Linked DNA regions of Homo sapiens. The protein of the gene in region 2 interacts with the protein of the main gene of each other region in a pairwise test. Each region holds a gene or a part of one and is shown on either strand. Other genes may lie near its edges. The genes, in order: FLI1 and SOX30.

Region 1 (4,986 bases), on a different chromosome or scaffold from region 2:
TCTTTGTTCTTTCTGTAATTATTGAGATGAAGACCACAAATGTCATCAAGATCTTTGAGATCTGCAAATAAAAGCAGTAAAGTTTTCTGAAATCAGTCTTTCCTGTGATCTTGAAATAAAAGTATAAACCCTTATGGTTTTCTTATGGTTGGTACGGTTGTCATATTTTTTAAAAACACTGAAGCAAATTTCCTTTTTTATTTCCTTAGATCCGTATCAGATCCTGGGCCCGACCAGCAGTCGCCTAGCCAACCCTGGTGAGTTTACCTTGGCCTGCAAGCCTTTTTTGCCAGAATGTTTCGTAGCTTTGTGAAATCACAGAGACTTCTGTCCTAAGTCCAGACACCTGAGTGGGGAGTAACATGCACGTCTTTCCTTGAAATGTTCAATGTCTGTTTCTGGAGCATGTGAACAACAGGTCAGGGCTTGTTATGAGGTGTCAAGGTTGGTTAGCTGAGGATACTTCTAGGAATAAACACATCAGCACTGCACATGTGCACTTAGGTGTAGATGAGTAATAAGTGGCACAGGTAGGTAGGCGTTTCAATCAGAGAAAATGGGCAAGAAAGAAAAGAAGACAACTCCACTCAGCTCTCAGTTGTCTCCCGCATGCCAGGCACAAGTTCATAAATATTCCAAAGGGTTTTATTTGTGATTTTAGAAAGTGTTGCCAAGTTATCTGGCCTTATAAAAGAGATGTGTCCTGGAAAAGTTGCAGATATAGTCAATTTGACCTTGTACTTTAAAGATTTAGTATCAAAAATAACTCTCAAGAGGGTCCTTCTAAACCAAGTCCATCGAGATTGGGAGCTAGCAGGCCCTTGTCGCAGTGTGGCCCACTCACCTTCCCATCCCAGGGACTCTGCCTACCCATTCCTTAGTGCCTGGTCATTACTGCCAGAGGAGAAAGCAGCCACCCAGCATATTCTGGGTATTTTTCTCTCTGCACAAGTTCTCTGTAGAACTTAGAGCTGCAAGCCAAGCTCTGGGCCTGCCAAGGGCCAATCCAGGTCCTGTCCATCCAAAAGCTAAAGCTCATGGCGCAGCTTCTCCCAATGACTCCCACAGTCATGCCTTGCCCCTGACTTTTTATTGCTGACAGGGAATTCCCTGGGGGACATGACCACTAATTAGAGATCAGTCAGTGATTCAGGCCTTTCTAGATGAAGAGATTCAAAAGCCTTGCCAAAGGGATTGAGGGGGGATATGGCTCACCCAAGATCACACAGCTAGTTCTGGGCAGAGTTTGCACCTCACTTCCCACATTCCATTTACCAGGCCTTGGGGCAAAGCATCTTAGGATCTAACCTCGCTTATTATACCCATCTCCAAGGCAAGCAGAAAGGCAAATCAACAATGACATAAGAAGGGCTTGTCAAGTCGATCCCAATGTCGAAGGAAACAAAAGGTTTCTTTAAAAGGATGAGAAGCTCCCTGCATTTAGGGAACTGGGTTCTGCCTTCTCTGGGCTGAGGTGTTCTGTTCTCTCCCGTTTGCCTCACGGCGTGCAGGAAGCGGGCAGATCCAGCTGTGGCAATTCCTCCTGGAGCTGCTCTCCGACAGCGCCAACGCCAGCTGTATCACCTGGGAGGGGACCAACGGGGAGTTCAAAATGACGGACCCCGATGAGGTGGCCAGGCGCTGGGGCGAGCGGAAAAGCAAGCCCAACATGAATTACGACAAGCTGAGCCGGGCCCTCCGTTATTACTATGATAAAAACATTATGACCAAAGTGCACGGCAAAAGATATGCTTACAAATTTGACTTCCACGGCATTGCCCAGGCTCTGCAGCCACATCCGACCGAGTCGTCCATGTACAAGTACCCTTCTGACATCTCCTACATGCCTTCCTACCATGCCCACCAGCAGAAGGTGAACTTTGTCCCTCCCCATCCATCCTCCATGCCTGTCACTTCCTCCAGCTTCTTTGGAGCCGCATCACAATACTGGACCTCCCCCACGGGGGGAATCTACCCCAACCCCAACGTCCCCCGCCATCCTAACACCCACGTGCCTTCACACTTAGGCAGCTACTACTAGAAGCTTACTCATCAGTGGCCTTCTAGCTGAAGCCCATCCTGCACACTTACTGGATGCTTTGGACTCAACAGGACATATGTGGCCTTGAAGGGAAGACAAAACTGGATGTTCTTTCTTGTTGGATAGAACCTTTGTATTTGTTCTTTAAAAACATTTTTTTTAATGTTGGTAACTTTTGCTTCCTCTACCTGAACAAAGAGATGAATAATTCCATGGGCCAGTATGCCAGTTTGAATTCTCAGTCTCCTAGCATCTTGTGAGTTGCATATTAAGATTACTGGAATGGTTAAGTCATGGTTCTGAGAAAGAAGCTGTACGTTTTCTTTATGTTTTTATGACCAAAGCAGTTTCTTGTCAATACACGGGGTTCAGTATGACACAGAATCATGGACTTAACCCGTCATGTTCTGGTTTGAGATTTAGTGACAAATAGAGGTGGGAAGCTTATAATCTAATTTTAGGAGGACCAAATTCAGTGGATGGCAACTGGAACATTGATTGTAAGGCCAGTGAAGTTTTCACCCAACTGGAATTTGATGGAAAGAAGGTTTGTGTGTTTAAGACGCCAAGGGCATTGCAGAATCCCTCTCAGTGGACAGTATGCACTCAGCTGACCACTCTCTCTAGAAATAGTCAAGATATGAACTAAGAAATTTTAATGCAAATACATACATTCCTGAAAGACGGGGAATTAAATTACTAATTTTTTTTTTTTTTTAAATGATGACAGTGGTCCCAGAACTTGGAAAAGTTGTAGGGATTTCTAAACTCAAGCAGATTCGCAAGTGCTGTGCGCTTGTCAGACCATCAGACCAGGGCCAACCAATCAGAAGGCAACTTACTGTATAAATTATGCAGAGTTATTTTCCTATATCTCACAGTATTAAAAATAAATAATTAAAAATTAAGAATAAATAAACGAGTTGACCTCGGTCACAAAAGCAGTTTTACTATCGAATCAATCGCTGTTATTTTTTTTAATGTAATTTGTACATCTTTTTTCAATCTGTACATTTGGGCTGTCTGTATGTTTTTATAGCTGGTTTTTAAAAAGCATAATATGCCTATAGCTGAAAAGGAAACAGGGCTGTTTAAGTCACTGACTTATGAGAAAGCAAAGCACTGGTACAGTTATTTAACAGGCATACACAAGCAGGGAAAAGATAATCCATTTAGATCTTTAATGCTTTGGAAATGCGTGTAACAGTACTGCAATAATCACAGCTCTGGGAAAAACAACGAAACTTTCCCTTGTGGAGAGGAGGGATTTTCCTGCTCTATATAAGCAACATATTTTTAGACATTAAAATATATATAATTTTGCAGGTAATTGTTGACTTTTTTAACTATATTAAGTGTTAAGCTGACAACTGTCAAAGAAGACCATGTTGTAAAATAATTTGACTAAATAAATGGTTCCTTCTCTCAGTGCTGAGGACAGTTTTCTTATTTACCGCCCCCGTTAGGTCAAAGGGTTTTCCCTGGGGAACTTTCCTATTTACTTCTTGCACTATCAAGAATTTTTCGAATGTACCTACTGCAGTACAGCAGAAGGTAAAAAATCAGTGTGGTTTTTCATTGTTGTTGATGATGTTTGTAGTGTTTTTGTGTGTGTTATTTAAATCTTCCTCCAGCCTAAAAGGGTTTTATAAAACAGCAGCTAAGGCCATGGATAAACCTGTATGTAAGGACTGGAGCAAAGCGAGCTGGTCTATCCAGACTGGTCTGTGAGATTTAACTCTGCAGCCTCCCCTGGGCACTTCAGACCCAGACGGCCACCTTCTGCCACTCCAGCAAAGAATAAGCGCCCTGCTTCCTTCAGGTCTCAGACCAGGACTTTATGGCTCATGCAGATTTTTAAGGTCATTTTTCTTCCCAAGGAAGAAACTTGCCTCCAGTTCCTTCACTGTTAGGTAGCTTATTTTCATTTTCTCTATTTTACAATGAAAAGAGTGAGACCTGGGAAGTCCTTGATTTGCAAGGAATTAGACTCACAGCATTGGTAACCCTAGAACCTTCTTAGGGTAACACTAAGTACCTTCTAGACAACATGTCTACCTAAATGAAATGGGATGTGTTTCGGAACATTTGTCTCCAGTTTTTTTTTAATCTTGCACCCTGCCATTTAAAAAGATGTGTAAAGCACATATTCTCAACATATGCACATTGATTTATAAATCATATATACAAACTGTTACATTATTCTTCATATTAGAAAACAAATACAAAATAGAACATTTTAAATGGTGATATAAAAATAAATTGAAACTGAAATTCTACTCTTTTCCTCCTATTTTCTCTATATTGAATATCCTCTGCTATTAACTCTCAAAACAAAGATGTTGGTCTTTAGTGAAAAAAGTGTATGCATGTACTGGATTTCTAGTGACTTCCAAGAAAGGAGAAAATTAAAACTTGGTATTAGTGGCCCAAGCATAGAAAGAGGAATGATGAAGGCCAGGTATGTTTAAGAACAAACTAGCTGAATTCTTTGGCAGATCTCCATCTTAGCCACGCAATTTCCCCATCAATTTTGAAATCTGCAAAGTATTCATTAGGGAAAATGGAGGCATATATTTCTGAGTGCTGTAAGAAGATGCTCAGCCCATTAGTTCATTCTTTTAAAGGTTTTCTTTATGTGTCCTACTCAAACACTGGCTCAGGCTCATCTTCTCTACACAGTCATAGAGCTTTAGCCAAATCTCGCCCCCTGAATATGTTCCACAGTGATTTGTCCTATGCCTCAGAAGCTGGCCCACTGGCTGACAGGACTGGGGCACCATTTTCTCCTCATAAGCATTTGTACAGAGGGGGCACTGGCATTTATTCCCCTGCAATGCCCAGATTGAACGTTTGCTAGCTGGCTCCAGGGCATGCAGCGGACTAGTCCCAGAGGACAAACAGAATCTTTGCCCTCCTGTCTGCTAGTCCAGTCTTTTCCCTGC
Region 2 (7,868 bases):
CTCGTGACTATAATCTTAGCTAGGTAGAGGTTCTCTAAACATTCACAGGAACTCATCTACATGCTGCTCTTGTGTCCTTTCAAGCAAAACTATTTATAATATTGTAATACTATATTAGTTGTATTTCACTACGAAGGTGAAGCTCTTACCAAGTGGAATCATCAACACTAGTCCTGTGTCCTGGGAGAAAAATGAAAGAAAACAATAAAAATAATTTTTTGGGCCAGGTACGGTGGCTCACGCCTGTAATCCCAGCACTTTGGGAGGCCAAGGCAGGTGGATCACGCGAGGTCAGGAGTTTGAGACCAGCCTGGCCAACATGATGAAACCCCATCTCTACTGAAAATACAAAAATTAGCCAGGCGTGGTTGCTCATGCCTGTAGTCCCAGCTACCTAGGAGGCTGAGGCAGGAGAATCGCTTGAACCCAGGAGGTGGAGGTTGCAGCGAGCTGAGATCACGCCACGGTACTCCAGACTGGGCAACAGAGTGAGACTCAGTCTCAAAAAAATAATTTTTTGAAAGTCACAGAAGGCAGGTAAAATGGCTCACACTTGCTTCTGACCTTCATTCCTAGAACCTCTCTGCCAATATTTCAGAAAAAAAATGACAGAAAATAATAAAAGTAATTTTTTTGAAAGTCAGAGAAGGCAGCCACAATGGCTCACACCTGTAACCTCAGTACTTTGGGAGGCCAAGGCGGAGGACTGCTTCATCCCAGGAGTTCGAGACCAGCATCTCTTTTTCATAAAATAAAATTTAAAAAAAGAAAGTCACAGAGCCAGTTGAAATTTCAACAAAGGAAGTTATCTAAATTCACATCTCTCATGTATTTTATCAAAAATAACTGTCCATAAATTTATTATATTATTTTAGGATTACTTCATATATTAAAAATTTCTTAAAAACACTAAAGATGAAATAAGTAGTATAAAGAAAGCTTTCCCTTTCTTTCCTTTAGAAAACAAAAATAAAATCTAAAAACTACTAAAGATAAAAGCAACAGGGTGGAGTGGAGAGGAAGAATCAACACAGAAAATTAAAAAAACAATAAAACATAAAGTTAATAAAAATATGAACCAAAGATTAATATGACTTTCCAAGATGTTCATTGGCAAAGTGTTCTGTGTGAACTAAATCTTAAAATAAGAATTTGCTAACTATATATCTGGAAATACTGAATAGAAATAAAAACATTATTTGTACTTGTTACTGCTGCAACTAGTCATTTCTTTAAAAATAATATTTATGGCTCATTCTACTGTATTCTTTTCAATATTTCTATAAGTCATTACCTTTCAGAGGAATAAACCCTAAAATATTACATTGAATCACGTATTGTTTTCTGCTAGAATATTTATTATTCATTTTTAAAGATAGCCTCTATAATCGGTATAAACTTTCCTGTTTAATTATAATCACTTTTTTCATTCAACACCATTATTTCTTCTATTTCTTGATACATATAAAAGTACTGAGCTGTTATACTACAATATTTTTAATCTTGATTATTTGTAGCATATAAACTGAGGGCTATGCGCTGTCTAGCAAGAATATTTCTATTTTTGTGTACAAAAATTAGTCCTATCTAAATACTGGGCCTTAAAATCGATTTTTTAAAAAATACTTGAGAATCTTGAAGGCATTCGTGTATTTTACTGCTATATGTACAAGTCGATCAGAAGTGATACCTGTGCAGACTCTGCCCTGAAAACAATCAGTTCCATTACTTTACTTTTGTAGTTTAGACTTGGGAACTGCTGACAAAACAGCTATGGGCAACACAGACGCAGTTTTGAAAACCCGACTCCCCTGCTGTCTAATACCTGCATCTGAGGGCAACACGGTGAGCGGGACATCTTTGGTTTCAATTTTTACAGAAGGCTCCAGTAGGGACTGCATTTTAGTAGGCACTGGTGTCAGGGGGACCTTGGTCAATCTTATCAGCTCTGAAGGCGGAGCTCCCTGAAACTGGATCCGGGCCCCAGGGGGGACCGTGTGGAGCGTCAAAGGGATCCTAAGGTCTTGCTGGTGCGGCCCAAAGGCACCGGACGTTGGGGCCAAGATGACCTCCGCGCTGCCATGAACCAGGCCATTGGACGCGGGCTCCGCGCCGAGCCTGCAGTCCTCGAGGAGTCTCTCGGGTTCCTCCGTTTTGATCACACCTTCTCGGATGGCTGCCGGGCTTTTGCCTGCCCCGCCTTGCATCGAGTCTCTCATGACCTCCTCCGCCTCCAGCTTGCCCTTCTCGTCCCCTCGGAAGTAGCCGAGGGCCGGCCCGGGGCCTTCCAACTTGACCACCCTGGAGGCTCTAGGACCGGTTTCGACGGCCCCTCGAGGCCCCACTGACTGATCCAGGCTGGGCCCCAGCTTCTGCTTCTTGGCCTTGACATGCAGCGCCAGGGGCTGCACCGGGTGCAACTCGGGCCTGGAGGTGGCGCCGTCTGACGCTGTCGGCGGCTGCAGGAGCCGCAGGTCGGGCCTGAACTGCAACAGCCGCGCCTGCGCGGACGAGGCAGCGGCTTCCTCGTTCTGGGCCTGAGGCTGTGGTAGCAGCAACACCTGCTCTGGCTTCACCTGCAGCAGCCGCCGCACCGCGGGCTGTAAGCCGGACGCCACTGCCTCCCCGCACGACGAGGCCAAGGTCGCACTGGCTGCCGCGCTCAGTGTGGGAGACGACGGAGGGGGCTCCATGGCTGCTGCCCAAAAGGAGGTGCCCTCGACCGGCAGCGGGGGCGGAGCGGGACGCAACGGGCGCGGCTGAGGCGGCGGCTCGGGTCTGGCTCTCTCCATGGGGGAGGGGGACGCCCCGGCCAGGATTGTGAGCTCAGCCGTTTGTTGGCGACCTTCCCCCTCCCCCTTTCGGTTAAGAGCCTTGCAAGGCCTTTGCTACCCAGAACCCTACGCGGTTCAAAACGCAGCTGTCTGTCTGGGCCTCACCCAATCACAACGACCGATACCCGTGGACGGCCAATCACAGGCGGGTTTTCCGGCTCTTCCTGGTCCCTACTCTCGCCTCGTGCTGAGTCCTCGAATCACCTGCCATGGTAGGAGCCGCCGCACTTGTTGCACATTTTCGTTCTGACTCTCTTGTGGAGTTCTCTTACAGCCGTTGTCTTTAGTCATCCCTCCCCCACCCGGAGCTGCGACAATGGCGTTGCCCAGGAAACGTTGCGCTTCCAGGCCGCTGACATCCAGGGAATGAAGTCTTGCGTCACAAGGGGAGCGACGGCCTTGTGCACGCGCTCTGTGCGGCCTGAGTAATCTGTCGGCCCTGAGTACCACCAGGGCTTTTGAATCTTTGCCAAGGGAGAATGGGGAAGATTTTGCAACTTATCAATAACCTATTAGCTAATGTTGCTGGGGAGGATCTTCGACTTTGTGTGATTATTGTGCTAAAGTTTCAATTAATCACCAGGCCCTGTGGCCCTACTTCCAAAATACTATACATCCCAAATTCATCCACTGTTTTGTGTCTCTACCTGCCATTATCCTGTTCCAGGCTCCCAGCATCTTTCACTGGGATACTGCCGTAACCCTGTAAATAGTCTCCCTGCTTGTCACCCTTGCCCCACTACACTCCAGCTGCCAGTGATCTTTCGAAAACGCAAATCTAAGGTTGTCACACTTTTCCTAAACTTTCCATGGCTCCCCACTGATAATGTAATGAAAGTCTAAAATTCTTAGCAAAGCCTTAAAAATCCCCCAGTGGCTTGGGATCTAACCTCCTACTACTGCTACTATTAGATTGGTGCAAAAGTAATTGTGGTTTTTGCCATTAAATAGTTATTGAGTCTTTGGGTTTCAGCCACATTGGCCCCATCATCATTCTCTTTCTACTGCAGGGTGTTTAAACATGCTCAGCATGCTACTCTTTCCTTTGTGTCTCCTTAATTCCTCCTGCACATTTTTCATATTGCAGCTCAACTGGGACTTCTTCAGAGAAGCTTTTACTGACTCTGAAAATCAGATAAAATCTTGGTCTACTTATACCTCTATCACTTGGTTTGCTTACCACAATTTGTAATTAGAATTTTCATGTGATGATTCCACTGCCTCTCCCACTTTAGACTATAAAGTCCTTGAAGGCAGAACAGTTTGTGTTTTGCCCATCACTGAATCCACAATGCAGACCATTGAGCCTGGCATATAGTACTCAATAAATACTTGTTGAATAAATAAATGAATAGCGACTGTGATAGGGTAATAATAAAATAGTAATAATCACTACCTGTGTTAAGGGCTTACTCTTATGCTAGACACTGTTCCAAATCCTTTCCATGTTTATGTTTCTCCTTTTAGTAGGATTGTGTTTATTTCCATTAAACATCACCAAGAAAAACAAAAAGAAATCCTGTATTAACATTTGCTGCATTTCTAAATGACATTCTGGCCAAAAACTATAGTTTATCTTGACGTAGATGATTTTTGCAATCAAGACAAGTTATCACTCAAAGACCACTCCAATTTATTGTCCAATCCTCTGGTAACAAATGTGGTCAGTAGGAGTTCTTATACCTGGCAGATAGACAAGGGCAATGGTTTTCAAACTTTTATCTCAAGAACTCATTATACCCATAAAAACTATTGAAGATCCTGGGCTGGGCGTGGTGGCTCACTCCTGTAATCCCAGCACTTTGGGAGGCTGAGGCAGGCGGATCACTTGAGGTCAGGAGTTCGAGACCAGCCTGGCCAACATGGTGGAACCTCGTCTCTACTAAAAATAAAAAATTAGTTGGGCATGGTGGCACATGCCTGTAATTCCAGCTACTCGGGAGGCTGAGGCAGGAGAATCGCTTGAACCTGGGAGGCAGAGGTTGCAGGAGCCGAGATCGTGCCACTGCACTCCAGCCTGGGCAACAGAGCAAGACCCTGTCTCAAAAAAAAAAAAAAAAACTATTGAAGATCCCAAAAAAGCTTTTGTTCATGTGGATTTCATCTATCAATATTTACCATGTTGTAAATAAAAACAAATTTTAAAGATAGCAACTCATTTAAAACGTCAACAATAAAACCATTCTGTGGTAACACATTTTCATAGGAAAAAATTATATTTTCCCCACCTTATGCTCACAAGAGAATGAAGTGAAAAGAGCAAATATTACATTAGGATTATTATGAAAATAGTTTTAACCTAGCTGACTCTGTAAGTGTCAGTCCCCATACCACACTTTGAGAACCACTGTACTAGGGTTTAAATGGGAGAGGCAACTGTATGCATGAGCAAAAGCTGATAAAAGAGGCAAATAAGTTGTCAGAGGTGTGTGAACCAGAGCACCTCCATCTTGAGTAGGTGCTGGGTAAAATGAGGCTGAAACATACTGGGTCGCATTCCCAGACAGTTAAGGCATTCTAAGTCACAGGATGAGATAGGAGGCTGGCACAAAGTACAGGTCATAAAAACCTTGCTGATAAAACGGGTTGCAATAAAGAAGCTGGCTAAAACCCACAAAAACCAAGATGGTGATGAGAATTACCTCTTGTCATCCTCACTACTACACTCACACTGGCAGCATGACAGCTTACAGATGCCACTGCAATGTCAGGAAGTTATCCTATATGGTCTAAAAAGGGGAGGCATGAAAAATCCACCCCTTGTTTAGCTTATCATCAAGAAATAACCATAAAAATGGGCAACCAGCAGCCCTTGGGGTTGCTCAGTCTATGGAGTAGCCATTATTTTATTCCTTTACTTTCTTAATAAACTCGCTTTCACTTTACTTTATGGACTCGCTCTGAATTCTTCCTTGTGCGAGATCCAAGAACCCTCTTTTGGGGTCTGGATCTGGACCCCTTTCCTGTAACTTCTTTCTGGTGACCCAGGTGGGATTATAGTGTGTAAGCCCCCAGTAAGTGGTGAGGTCCTGTAACATCTTTCTGGCAACTATGGAATGGACTGCAGTATGGAAACCCCGACCCAAAGGCTAACTTTGGGTAAGTGGTGGGGTCCGGTAACATCTTTCTGGTGAACCCTAAAGGGACGATACTTAGGAGACTCCTGACTCAAAGGAAATAGACTATAGCACTGATTGGACAATTTTGGATAAGTGGTGGGGTACCCAGATAAAGAATGGGATTGGGTTAGAAGCCCAACTTAGGAGGGTTAGAGTCCCTTCTAAGATTTAGGGGGCTAGAAGCCCCTCTCGGTAAAGTCCCCTTTGGCTAAGAACAGGTTTGGCACTACGGTATGTTAACTTCTATTCTCCTTGGAATAATCTGCCTTGTACTCTTTGCTGATGGATGCGGATGACAGGGTTAGGCAGGTACAGGATCATGGGACATGAGGAGCTTTTTCCTCCCGTAAAGGGGAAACTTGAGAGTCGATGGGACTGCTGGAAAACATCCCTTCACTACCGAGAAGTGGCCACCTGAACTCTTCACTGTCGCTGCAGTGGGTGGATCTTTCTGTGGCTTCCCTGAACGCCTGGCCTTCCCCACCTTGCCTCAGGCAATGCTGTCGTCTCTCTCTGTGCAAACTGGTTGTAGGAATGGTAAAAATCACTATTTCTTACAAAGTTTTGATTAATGGAAGAAAGGATTTGTGAGGCTAGTCTTAAGCTGTAGCCAATCTGGTGTGTTTCCTGTGTCATTCTGTATTGTTCTGTCATAAAGAGGGGTACCTTAGGATAGAACATGGGCTTAGGACACCTATAAGCCTGCTGTTCAAGATGGCCCAGCAAACTGGTCAGTTAAAAACTTTGCTGCAGGTCCGTGAAAAAAACTGGATGAGGTTTCCCTCTTGTCTTGTATGTCCTTGGGAGCTTGACCTTGTAACCATGTGGCTGTGCTTTCTCTTTCACAGTGGTGGCCCGGGTTCAGGGTTCAATTCCCATCTTAGGAGATGAGTCCTTTATCTTTTGTCTGTGTATTTATGTGTATCATGTGTGTGGTGCTTGTATATAACAGAGGTTTGATTAATCGGTTAAAAATAATAAGTGCTTCAGTCATATTTTTGTGAGAAAAATTAAACATATAATGCCTTTTATATAGTTCATGTGACTTAAGTAATCTTTGGGAAATGAAGACAGTTTTAAAGATTATTGGTAAAATAAAAATATCTTAAAATGTAAACATTTGGTCTAAATTATGCAGGTCAGATATTAGGTTTGCTAAATGCTTTAAGTTCATAAGCTGCTGCTTTCACTTTTGAAAATTGTTTAATTTACCTACTTTGACCATATTAGAGTCTAGATAAGGCCTGGGGACATGTGATGTTAGCCATACCCCAAGCAATGCTAGAAAAAGTCAGACCTTATCTGCACTTCTGTCTGTGTCCTAGGCTGCACACCTAGTACATAATTAAAATGCTTACCAACCAGGGTTTTCACCAAAAGTAAAAATCGCTGAAAGTTAACATTGTAACATGTAATTGAGACTACTGAAGAATAGTTCTACACATAAGGTGTGTAAGGAAAGTGAAATGTGTTTTTGGTAAAAGATCATTAGAAGTCATGAGAATGTAAATTTTCTTCCTTAGATTAAATGGTTAAATTATTGTTTTAAGTTAGATAGAATGAAGCTGAAGGTTTAAGAAAGTTTTGGAAAGTGTGAAAAATTAATTGTAGGACATTCTGTGTGTGAATATATTAGTTAAAGTTAAAGGGGTATTCAGTTTTTCTATAAATTAAACATTGGAATAAAAGCACAAGTTTTTTTAGAGCAAAAACCTGCTATGATTTGCTCTTTAACAAAAATATGTAAAGGGTTATAAAAGGTTTGTGAGAATCTTACCTTATAGTCAAACTGATTAAGATTGAATACATTTGTCTATAAGGTTTTATAAAGAATTGGGTTTGTCATCAATAATGCACTAATGCAAGAGTCACATTTGGCTTATTTGGTACAAAAACCACACAGGAAGCATTATCA

The links.
Region 1: the proteins of SOX30 (region 2) and FLI1 interact in binary tests that used the Homo sapiens proteins (3 or more experiments, as listed by UniProt).

The regions. Positions count from the first base shown.
Region 1 is NC_000011.10:128,808,948-128,813,933, forward strand, and holds the end of FLI1 (Friend leukemia integration 1 transcription factor), read left to right. Parts: intron 1-209; coding exon 210-257; intron 258-1,511; coding exon 1,512-2,041; 3' UTR 2,042-4,320; downstream 4,321-4,986. UniProt on the Homo sapiens protein: Sequence-specific transcriptional activator. Recognizes the DNA sequence 5'-C[CA]GGAAGT-3'.
Region 2 is NC_000005.10:157,649,287-157,657,154, forward strand, and holds the start of SOX30 (transcription factor SOX-30), read right to left. Parts: upstream 3,153-7,868; 5' UTR 2,793-3,152; coding exon 1,826-2,792; intron 1-1,825. UniProt on the Homo sapiens protein: Acts both as a transcriptional activator and a repressor. Binds to the DNA sequence 5'-ACAAT-3' and shows a preference for guanine residues surrounding this core motif. Binds to its own promoter and activates its own transcription.